Regions from separate parts of the Homo sapiens genome. Here region 1 is linked to region 2. Evidence: fine-mapped expression QTL. A gene starts in region 2. The other region holds a variant in brackets. All regions are shown on one strand. Distances are between the middles of the regions. Region 1 has its middle 44 kb from the start of ZMYM1. Region 2 holds the start of ZMYM1 (zinc finger MYM-type containing 1).

Region 1 (5,377 bases), 43 kb after region 2:
AGAGAGAAGCAGAGGAAACATCTCAAAGTATTAGGCTATTTTAGTCACTTTCTGAAAATAATAGAACTTCATGAGCCTTGAGGCTAGAAAAGCTATTCTGTCGTGTCTCTCCCAATAAGTACAGGAAAATGCATTTCACGTGAAAGTAAGCAACAGAAAAAGATTATGAAATATAATACAAAATTGCATAGAAAACAGCAAAGTAAATCCCTACCAAACAGGTGAAAATTAACATGATGTTTCAAAACAAGCTAAAAGCGCCTGGGCAACATAGTGAGACCCCGTCTCTGCAAAAAATAAAAAAAGCTGGACGTGGTGGCTCGCACCTGTAGTCCCAGCTACTTAGAAGGCAAACGTGGGAGGATTGCTTGAGCCCAGGAGGTCGAGGCTGTAGTGAGCTGTGACTGTACCACTGCACTCCAGCCTGGATGATAGAGTAAGACACTGTCTCAATAAATAAATTTTTAAAAATATGGGGCCGGAGCGATGGCCTGGGTCTGGAGCCCGCGGCCTCCACCGCCCACAATAACAACAACGTGTAGGGAGCAGCCGCGGCCAGAGCCGGAGCAGGGGCCAGAGTTGCGGCTAGAGTAGGGCCTGCGCGTTTGAGTGACTGAGAGTTGCCCCTGCCTGAGACCTCAAACTCCAGGCGGAAGCGCTATCGGTTGGCTGAGCAGCCGTAGCCCGCCGCACGGCGACCCCCAGGCCCAGACAGCGGGGCGGAGGTCTCGTAGGCGCGGGACTGGCTTCTCTCAGGATGAGCCCTTAGAGCCGGGCTCCGGATCTTTCTCAGCCTCGGGCCCCTTTCACTTTCAGGACAGAGGCCAGAGAACGGTGATCATCACACACCCCAGCCGGCTTCCTGGCCTGGGCATTTTCTCCGCGGCCAAGCAGTGTTGGGGTTGTAGCTGCTGGGAGCTCCCTCCTGCCGCCACCTCTTCTGCTAGGAAGGGACTGACGCGTTCCCACGTTCTTGCTCTGCACCTCCCCACTCTTCCCACTCAAGAATAAGTTTCTCGGCCGGGCGCGGTGGCTCACACCTGTAATCCCAGCACTTTGGGAGGCCGAGGCAGGCGAATCACGAGGTCAGGAGATCGAGACCATACTGGCCAACACAGTGAAACCCCGTCTCTACTAAAAATACAAAAACATTAGCCGGGCGTGGTGGCAGGCGCCTGTAGTCCCAGCTACTCAGGAGGCTGAGGCAGGAGAATGGTGTGAACCAGGGAGGCGGAGCTTGCAGTGAGTGGAGATCGTGCCACTGCACTCCAGCCTGGGCGACAGAGCGAGACTCCGTCTCAAAGAAAAAATAAATAAATAAATAAATAAATAAGTTTCTCTTCCCTCTCCATTGAAAATTCTGCCCCGGAGGTCCAAAACATCTATTTTGTGTGCCCTTCCCCAGCTCCTGGAGCAGCACCCTTAGAAGTATTGCCTACTCATCAGGGCTGAGAATCCTTCATTTTTGACTTGGCTTTTTTCGCCCTTTGGGAGATAAAGGTCCCTTTCCACCCTCTTTACTAACGCTCTGCCCACCAGCCCTTATCCTTGGGGTCATCAGCTCCTTGGCCATTTCTATGTGACTTCCCCCACCCATCTGAGTTCCAGCTTCCTCTGGGCTCCAATCTCCAGTCCCTGGCGGAGTGACTAGGGGGCTCTGGCCCAGGATCCCCAACCCTGGAAGGCAGCTCTAACGCAGGAAGAGAATTGGGCGTCGGGTGCGCACCTGGCAGCTCAGGAGTCGGGGCTCCACTCACCCCACACAAGAAGATGAAAATGCCCAAAGAGCTCAATGTATTGATTGGTTTGGCTGGGGACAGCCAGAGAAAGAAGCCCAAGCAGTCACCGCCTGCTTCGCCCTGAGCCTCCTGACTTAGACTCTGAGTCCAGCTCCAAGGAGGAAGAGGAATTCGGTGTGGTTGGAAATCGCTCTCGCTTTGCCAAGGGAGGCTATTGACGATGCTGCAAGATCTGCTATCCGCTCTGTGGTTTTGTCACCCTCTCTGCCTGTGTTGTGGCCTGTGTTGGCTTGGTGTGGATGCAGGTTGCTCTCAAGGAGGATCTGGATGCCCTCAAGGAAAAATTTCGAACAATGGAATCTAATCAGAAAAGCTCATTCCAGGAAATCCCCAAACTTAATGAAGAACTATTCAGCAAGCAAAAAAAACTTGAGAAGATTGAATCTGGAGAGATGAGTTTGAACAAAGTCTGGATAAACATCACGGAAATGAATAAGCAGTGCAGGGTCGGGTCATGAGTGGCCAGAGCCTATCCTGGCAGCGTAGAGTGCAAAGCGGGAACCAATCCTGGACAGGAAGCCATCCCATCGCAGGGCTTACTCATACACACGCTCACACTCAGACTGGGACCATTTACGCATGCCAACTAACCAAACATGCACAGTTTTGTGATGTGGGAGTACCTGGAGAAAACCCACGCCAACATGGGGAGAACATGCAAACAGACAGTGGCCCGGCCAGGAGTCAGATTTTTTTCTCCTCAATGTTATAACCAAATGACGTTGAACAAAACATTATTCAAGGACCTGCTGTAAATAGGAAAGTTTACTTCTGTCCTAGGGCTTCATCTATGAAGCTGGAAGAGATTGCACTGAAACCCTTTCCATTTCAGCATCAACATGCCTTCAAAGATTCTGGGACTGACTTATGAAGCCAGCCTGATAACAGAGGACTTCTCTGCGAGCACAGGTCCAGAAGCATGGGTGGTGGGAAAGCAGAAACTTGTGTTGTTTCCTAAGGGAGCTCTCTGAGTGGTTTTCTAAAATTAATGTTACACATCTCTGATGGTCTATTCAAGTCAGAGGCATCTGTCCTAAACCAAAATAGGTAGAAAAATAAAAGTATCTGGGCATGGTGGCTCACGCCTGTAATCCCAGCACTTTGGCAGGCCGAGGTGGGCAGATCACCCAAGGTCAGGAGTTTGAGACCAGCCTGGCCAACAGGGCAAAACCCTCATCTACTAAAAATAAAAAAAATTAGCCAGGCCTGGTGGCATGTACCTGTAATCCCAGATACTCCAGAGGCTGAGGCACGAGAATTGCTTGAACCCAGCGGCAGAGTTCGGCAGTGAGCCGAGATCACGCCACTGCACTCCAGCCTGGGTGACAGAGCAAGACTCCATCTCAATTTAAAAAAATTAATTCATTAATTAAAACATAAAAGTAATATTTAACCATAAAAAAAA[A/T]ATTTTTTAAATTGTCCATTTCTCCATCTCAAAAAAATAAAAAATTCTAATTTTCCTTTTGATTCCTCCTTTATGAGTTATTTAAATGTATATTGATTATGAAGGGATACTGAAATCTCCAAACTTAATTATGAACTTCTCTATTTTTCCTGCAGTTCTAGCAGTTTTGGCTTTGTGTATTTTGAATCTTTATTAAGTGTGCAGTGTTTAGAACAGGTATGTCTTTTTGTTTATTTGTTTTTTGAGATGGAGTCTCACTCTATCGCCCACGCTGGAGTGCAGTGGCACAATCTTGGCTCACTGCAACCTCCACCTCCTGGGTTCAAGCGATTCTCCTGCCTCAGCTTCCTGAGTAGCTGGGATTACAGGCACGCACCGTCACGCCCAGCTAAATTTTGTATTTTTAGTAGAGATGGGGTTTCACCATGTTGGCTAGGTTGGTCTCGAACTCCTGACCTCAGGTGATCCACCCACCCACCTCAGCCTCCCAAATGCTGGGATAACAGGCGTGAGCCACTGCGCCCAGCCAACATTATTATTATTATTTGGAGACAGGGTCTTGCTCTATCACCCATCCTGGAGTACAGAGGCATGATCATGGCTCACTGCAGCCTCAACCTTCTGGACTCAAGTGATCCTCCCTTCTCAGCCTCCTATCTAGGTCTATAGGCATGTGCCACCATGCCTGGCTAATTTTTAAACTTTTGTAAAGACGGGGTCTCACTGGGTTGCATCGGCTAGCCTCAAAGTCCTGGCCTCACGTAATCCTCCCACCTTGGCCTCCCAAAACATGGGATTATAGGTATGAGCCACTGTCCCCTATTATAAGGGTACACACCTAATTATTATATTATCAAAATATAAGCCTATTTTAATTTATGTCTATTTTTATATTTAAGGTGGCCTTTATGTAGGTGGCATATGATTGGGTCTTTTTTTATTCAGTATGATCTGACAATCTTTGGTTTTTCATTGGGGTATTTAGACCATTTATATCTAATGTGGCCAGGCATGGTGGCTCATGCCTGTAATCCCAGGACTTCAGGAGGCCAAGGTGGGCAGATCCCTTGAGCTCAGGAGTTCAAGACTGTCCTGGGCAACATAGTGAGATCTAGTCTCTGCAAAAAAAATAAGCAAAAAATTATCTGGGTGTGGTGGCATGCACTGTAGTCCCACCTACTTGGGAGGCTAAGGTGGGAGGGTCGCTTGAGCTTGGGAGGTCAAGGCTGCAGTGAGCCAAGATTGTGTCACTGCACTCCAGCCTGGGTGACAGAGCAAGATGCTGTCCCAAAAAAAAAAATGTGGTTATTAATATGATCAAGTTCAAATCTACCATCTTTTTTTTTTTGAGACGGAGTTTCACTCTTATCACCCAAGCTGGAGTGCAATGGTGTGGTCTCGGCTCACTGCAACCTCTGCCTCAGCCTCCTGAGTAGCTGGGATTATAGGCATGCACCACAAATCCCAGCTAATTTTGTGGTTTTTTAGTAGAGATGGGGTTTCACTATGTTGGCCAGTCTGGACTTGAACTCCTGACCTCAGGTGATCTGCCTGCCTCAGCCTCCCAAAGTGCGAGATTACAGGCGTAAGCCACTGCACCTGGCTCAAATCTACCATTTTACTATTTGTTTTCTATTCGACCAATGTGTCTTTGTTCCCCTTTCTCTCTCTCTCTCTCTCTCTCTTTTTTTTTTTTTTTCCTTTCTGGCCGGGCACGATGGCTCAAGCCTGTAATCCCAGCACTTTCGGAGGCTGAGGCGGGTGGATCATGAGGTCAAGAGATCAAGACCATCCTGGCCAACATGGTGAAACCCCCCGTCTCTACTAAAACTACAAAAAATTAGCTGGGCGTGGTGGCGTGTGCCTGTAGTCCCAGCTACTTGGGAGGCTGAGGCAGGAGAATCACTTGAACCCGGGAGACGGAGGTTGCAGTGAGCTGAGATTGTGGCACTGTACTCCAGCCTAGTGACAGAGCGAGACTCCATCTCCAAAAATAAATAAATATATTTATCGCCTTTCTTATCATTAGTATAACACTTCATTTTGTTTGTTTGTTTGTTTTATAAGTGGTTGCTTTCAGGTATGTAGTATACATATTCACCTTCAATTGATATTACACTACTTCACGTATAGGATGAGACTCCTGTACCAATATACTTCCACTTCTGCCGTC
Region 2 (5,377 bases):
AGAATGAATCAAGCTTCCTATCTCCCAGAGCTCTCCTCCTATTCCTTAGGACTTAATCTTTCAGCCAGTATAAACTATTGAGACTTCAGGGCAAGAAAGACGCATGAAACTTGTGACCTACATCTACTGCTTGAAATATTGGGCCAAATTTTCAGATCTATCACTGGGGGTGGTTGGAATATCACATCTCAAAATTATCACACATCCTTACAATTTTTTATGATATCATGAATCCTACCATTTTTTCAACTCAACTCCCAAGGAAGTTAGTAATGACGATGAAACCACCATTGCAAGATTATGACTGAGACCATGAAGGAGATCTAACCTAATGGACTCCATCTTGGTTCTAACTTTAAACTGTCCTTGTTCCTTCCTGGGCATAGGCTAAACTAACTTTGGGAGGAATTTAGTTTATAGTTTAAAACAAAGACAATAACAGCCCTTTCCCAAAACAAACCTCCTCCTTGCCTGGGGACTAGACTGCCTTTATAAGATTAACAAATTAGCCACAAGATTAGAAATTATGGTTTAGGAGTCATGCAGCTGGAGGCCAAGATTCTGACCCTCCCTAAACTGCTCCTGAGACCAGTGCTTGAGATATTTTGCAGACCCTGCACTTGATGGATCAGCTGGTACCACCCAGATAGATAAACAGGCTCATCTGATCTTGTGGCCCCCACCAGGGAACTAACTCAGCGCATGAGGACAGACAGCTTCAACTTCCCATTATTTCATCTCCTACCTAACCAATCAGCGCTTCTGGCTCACTGGCTTCCCCCCACCCACCAGTTGTCCTTAAAAACTCTGATTCCCAAATGCTCGAGGAGACTGATTTAAATAATAATAAAATTTCAGTCTCCCGCACAGCTGGCTCTGCGTGAATTACTCTTTCTCTATTGCAATTCCCCGTCTTGATAAATGGACTGTGTTTAGGTAGCGGGCAAGGTGAACCCACGGGGCATTTACAATGACATCACTTGCCTTTGGATGCCCACTGAACCAGGACTCATTTCTGGGTTCCAATCTAATCCCAGTCACTGAGTTGCTGTGTAACTTGGGGCAAATTACCTTTATCCTCTTGCCTTCAGCTTTTCCTTTGGTAGGAAGGGAGCATTAGAGGAGAGATCATTTCAGTAAGGTCCTTTCTAATCCTAACAGTCTAAACAGATTATTATGAATATTAGAAGGTAATAATAAATGTTGGAGAAATTAACTTCAGTTACTCGTATAATATTTCAAATTACCAAAGGGTTTATATTAGATTTGAGGCTAATTCCAAAGGATATTTAAGGACCATAGCAGCAAGGATTAGGAGGCCCTTTTGGTCTGGACCTCACCTTCACAAGGGCCTCAAATTTAGATTTTTGAGAATATCTCCTTTAAAAGTAATTGTCAAATATGATTATAATAAGTTCATCATTCAACCTTATATATATATTTTAGAATCCTCTTATGCCTTTAGGAATAGCACAGTTAGTTCGTCCTATACTTTTTTAGGTGTTGAAAGTATTGTCAAAAAACATTTAAAATATGCCATTATTTTTGACATGCAGTTTGGGGTTATTTTAATTTTTTTTTTTTTTTTTTTTTTTTTTTTTGAGACGCAGTCTCTCTCTGTCGCTCAGGCTGAAGTGCAGTGGTACAATCTCAGCTCACTGCAACCTCTGCCTCCTGGCTTCAAGCGATTCTCCTGCCTCAGACTCCCAAGTAGCTGGGATTACAGGCGCCCGCCTCCATGCCCGGCTAATTTCTGTATTTTTAATAGAGACGGGGTTTCACCATGTTGGTCAGGATGGTCTTGAATTCCTGAACTCAAGCAGTCCACCCGCCTCGGCCTCCCAAAGTGCTGGAATTATAGGTGTGACCCACCACACCCAGCCTGGGGTCATTTTAATTTTAACGTACTAATGAAAGAAGTCTGAACTCCCTCCCTACCTCTGAGGATAATTTCCTTTTACTAGGAATTTACTCTGCAACTGGCACTTTGCTAACATTGCCTGTCATATTTTTTTTTTTTGAGTCCAGCTTCTGCAGAAGCCTGCCTAATGTTTACAAACCTACGATGCAGCCACTACAATTATCCCCATTTCAAGGTCGAAGAAATGGAGATTTATAGAAGTTGTCAAATCGCTTACTAGCACACAGCTAATAAGTAGTAAAGCCATCTCTCAAATCCAGGAAATCTAACTGCCCTGCCTGAGCTCTGAGTCAAGGGTCCTACTTTGGCTGCCAGCCAGCGACGACTTCAAGGGTAAGATCCTATGCGGGCCGTAAGGACTCTTCCCCTCCCCCTCTCCCACTTCTTCTATCCCAAAGTCGCTCTTCCCAATTCAGGGAGCTGGGACCACCCTGAGCCAGCGGCCCTGCGCATGCTCAACCGCAGAGCACGACGGGAGAGGGGCGGGGTCGGCGGGGCCGTTTCGCTTCGAAGATTGTTTCAGAAGCGTTGGGCGGGGCGTCCCTGAGAGAAATTAGTAAGCCTCCTCATGCGGCTCTGGTTTCGGTCTTTACTCCTGCGCCTTACTCGAAAGGGGCAGGGTTTCTGCTGTCGGTCGGAGGGAGGATGACGCGCCGGGTCGGGGTTTTAGAGACGGAGCTTTGAGTGCGGATTCCGCCAGATGGGGGTCGGGAACTCCGGGCCAGGCCCTGACGTGGATTGTGTTTGCCGCCTCCTTTAACCTTGCCCTCATAGACTGGGGGGGTTAGTGCTCCCCGCTTCCAGCGATTCTCGCCGCCTCCTGCTCCTGTGTAGTAACTGGGCCTTCAGACTTTAGTCTCGCTCCGCAGCCTCCGTTTCAGAAGCCCCATCACACCTGTATCTCTCCTTCATTGAGCAGTGATTTTTCAAAAGTTTGACTCCTGGCCGGGCGTGGTGCCTCAAGCCTGTAATCCCGACACTTTGGGAGGCCCAGGCGGGCGGATCTCTTGAGGTCAGAAGTTCGAGACCAGCCTGGCCAACATGGCAAAACCCCGTCTCTACTAAAAGTACAAAAATTAGCTGGGCTTGGTGGCAGGCGCCTGTAATCTCAGCTACTCAGGAGGCTGAGGCAGGAGAATCGCTTGAACCGGGAGGCAGAGGTTGCATTTAGTCGAGATCGTGCCACTGCACTCCAGAGCGAGACCCCGTCTCAAAAAAAAAAATGAAATGTTTGCTGAACCCCAAAAGCACAGTTTGAACGCTGCTGATTTACAAGATTAATTTTAAGGTATTTGGTATCAGGGACCTTCCTGACATGACCCATGTCTACTTTTCAAACTTTCCAGTTCCTTCTACTAGCACTCTTGCACTTGTACTTTATCTGCAACAACAGTCCCACTCCTTCTAGTTCCCATATATTTGTGCTTCTTTTTTTTTTTTTTTTTTTGGAGACTGGGTCTCGCTCTTTGGCCCAGGCTGAGTGCAGTGACACGATCACGGCTCACAAGCAGCCTCAGCCTTCCGAGCTTAAGCGATCCTCCCACCTCAGGTTCCAGAGTAGCTGGAACAACAGGTGCTCCCCACTACGCCCAGCTAATTTTTGTATTTTTTGTAGAGACAGGTTATCTTCATGTTGCCTAGGCTGGTCTCGAACTCCTGAATCGAAGCAATCCACCTGCTTGGGCCTCTCAAAGTGCTGGGATTACAGGCTTGAGCCACTGTGCCCGGCTATTTGTGGTTTTGTACATGCTGTCTCTATACCAGGAATATCCGCCATCATTGGTTGGTAGACACTTTAAAACCCAGCTCAAATTTCACCTCCCAGAAGACTGACCGTCTTCTTTTTTCATTTCTTCTCAGTACCTTGTATATACTTACTGGTTGGGACATCCTACTCATCAGTGTAACCCGGTACCAAGGCACTTCGGAAATGATGGCTCTTCATTGCCTGCAGAATTAACCATGGACATTTTAGTTTGGTTTGAAAAACATATAGCCTTCTGCCTCCAGCCTTCCCATCAGGCTAGTAAAAGACCTTGCAGAACTCAGTTGAATAAAATAATTTTTTTTTTTTGAGACAGCATTTCACTCTTGTCTCCCAGACTGGAGTGCAGTAGCGCGATCTCAGCTCACTGCAACCTCCACCTCCAGTTCAAGTGATTCTCCTGCCTCAGCCTCCCAAGTAGCTGGGATTACACCACACCTGGCTAATTTTTGTTTAGTAGAGACAGGGTTTCACCATGTTGGCCAGGCTGGTCTAGAACTCCGACCTCAGCTGATCCACCCTCTCAAAGTGCTGGGATTGCAGACAGGAGCCACCGTGCCCGGCCGAATAAAATAAATCTTAGCAAAGTGTAATGTATAAAGAAGTGGTATAATGCGAAGAAATAAGGGATAGGAGTATATCTGCTTCCAGACTCTGTTTTGTTTTTGCTTGTGTCCATACCACACTATCTTAATTTACTGTAGCTTTATAAGCCCTTCCAACATTTTTTTTTTTTGATATTGTCTTGGTTATGCTAGGCTCTGTATGCACATTGTATATACATTAGAATTACCTTACAAATTCCACAAAAACCCCTGCTGGGATTTTCATCTACAGCTTAATTAGGAGAAAAATTAATATTGACTCTTTCCATCAATGAGCATTTATTTAGATCTTCCTTAATTTCTCTCAGCAATGTTTTGTTTTCACTGTAGAGTTCTTTAATAGCTTTCATTAGATTTATTCCTATATTTGATATTTATGATGCTGCAGAAAATGGTTATTTTTATATTTTTCTGTTCTAGTATAAAGAAATAAAATTGATTTTTTGTTTGTTTGTTTGAGACGGAGTCGCACTGTGTCACCCAGGCTGGAATGCAGTGGCACAATCTCGGCTCACTGTAGCCTCTGACACCCAGGTTCAAGTGATTCTCCTGTTTCAGCCTCCTGAGTAGCTGGGATTACAGGTGCCCACCACCATGCCCAGCTAATTCTTTTGTATTTTTAGTAGATACGGGTTTCACCATGTTAGGCTGGTCTTGAACTCCTGACCTCAGGTAATTCACCCATCTCTGCCTCCCAAATTGCTAGGATGACAGGCGTGAGCCACTGCACCTGGCCAAAATTTATTTTCGAATGTCTTGCTAAGCTTAATAACTTGGAGATTCTTTTGAATTTTCTTTGTATAGAATCATGTCATCCATGAATAATAACAATTTTAACTGCCTTTTCAAAGTTTGTCTTTTATTTTTTCTTGCTTTATTGATCTAACTAGAACTTCTACTACAATGTTGAAGATAAGTGATAAGAAAAATTCTAAAATGCGGATCTTGTATTATCCTATAATTCTGCTGAATTCACTTATTCTAATAGTTTCTTTTGCGGGGGGTGAGTTGGGGGAGGTTCCTTAGAGTTTTCTATATGCAGTCATGTCTACAAATAAAAAGTTTTCTTCCTTTCCAACTTTTTTT

What was found. PIP is the estimated chance that this variant, and not a neighbour inherited with it, causes the effect.
Region 1: its variant is fine-mapped to the expression of ZMYM1 in whole blood (TOPMed, PIP 0.98).

What each region holds. Positions count from the first base shown.
Region 1 is chr1:35,120,252-35,125,628 of GRCh38, forward strand. It overlaps the pseudogene EFCAB14P1. Among named protein-coding and RNA genes, the nearest start is that of ZMYM1, 44 kb to the left of the region's middle. RefSeq lists an enhancer at 723-842. The variant A/T (reference allele first, on the strand shown) is at 3,205.
Region 2 is chr1:35,076,966-35,082,342 of GRCh38, forward strand. ZMYM1 (zinc finger MYM-type containing 1) reads left to right here and starts at 2,420. Exons shown (of 10, transcript NM_024772.5): 1 at 2,420-2,477. RefSeq lists an enhancer at 2,327-2,845.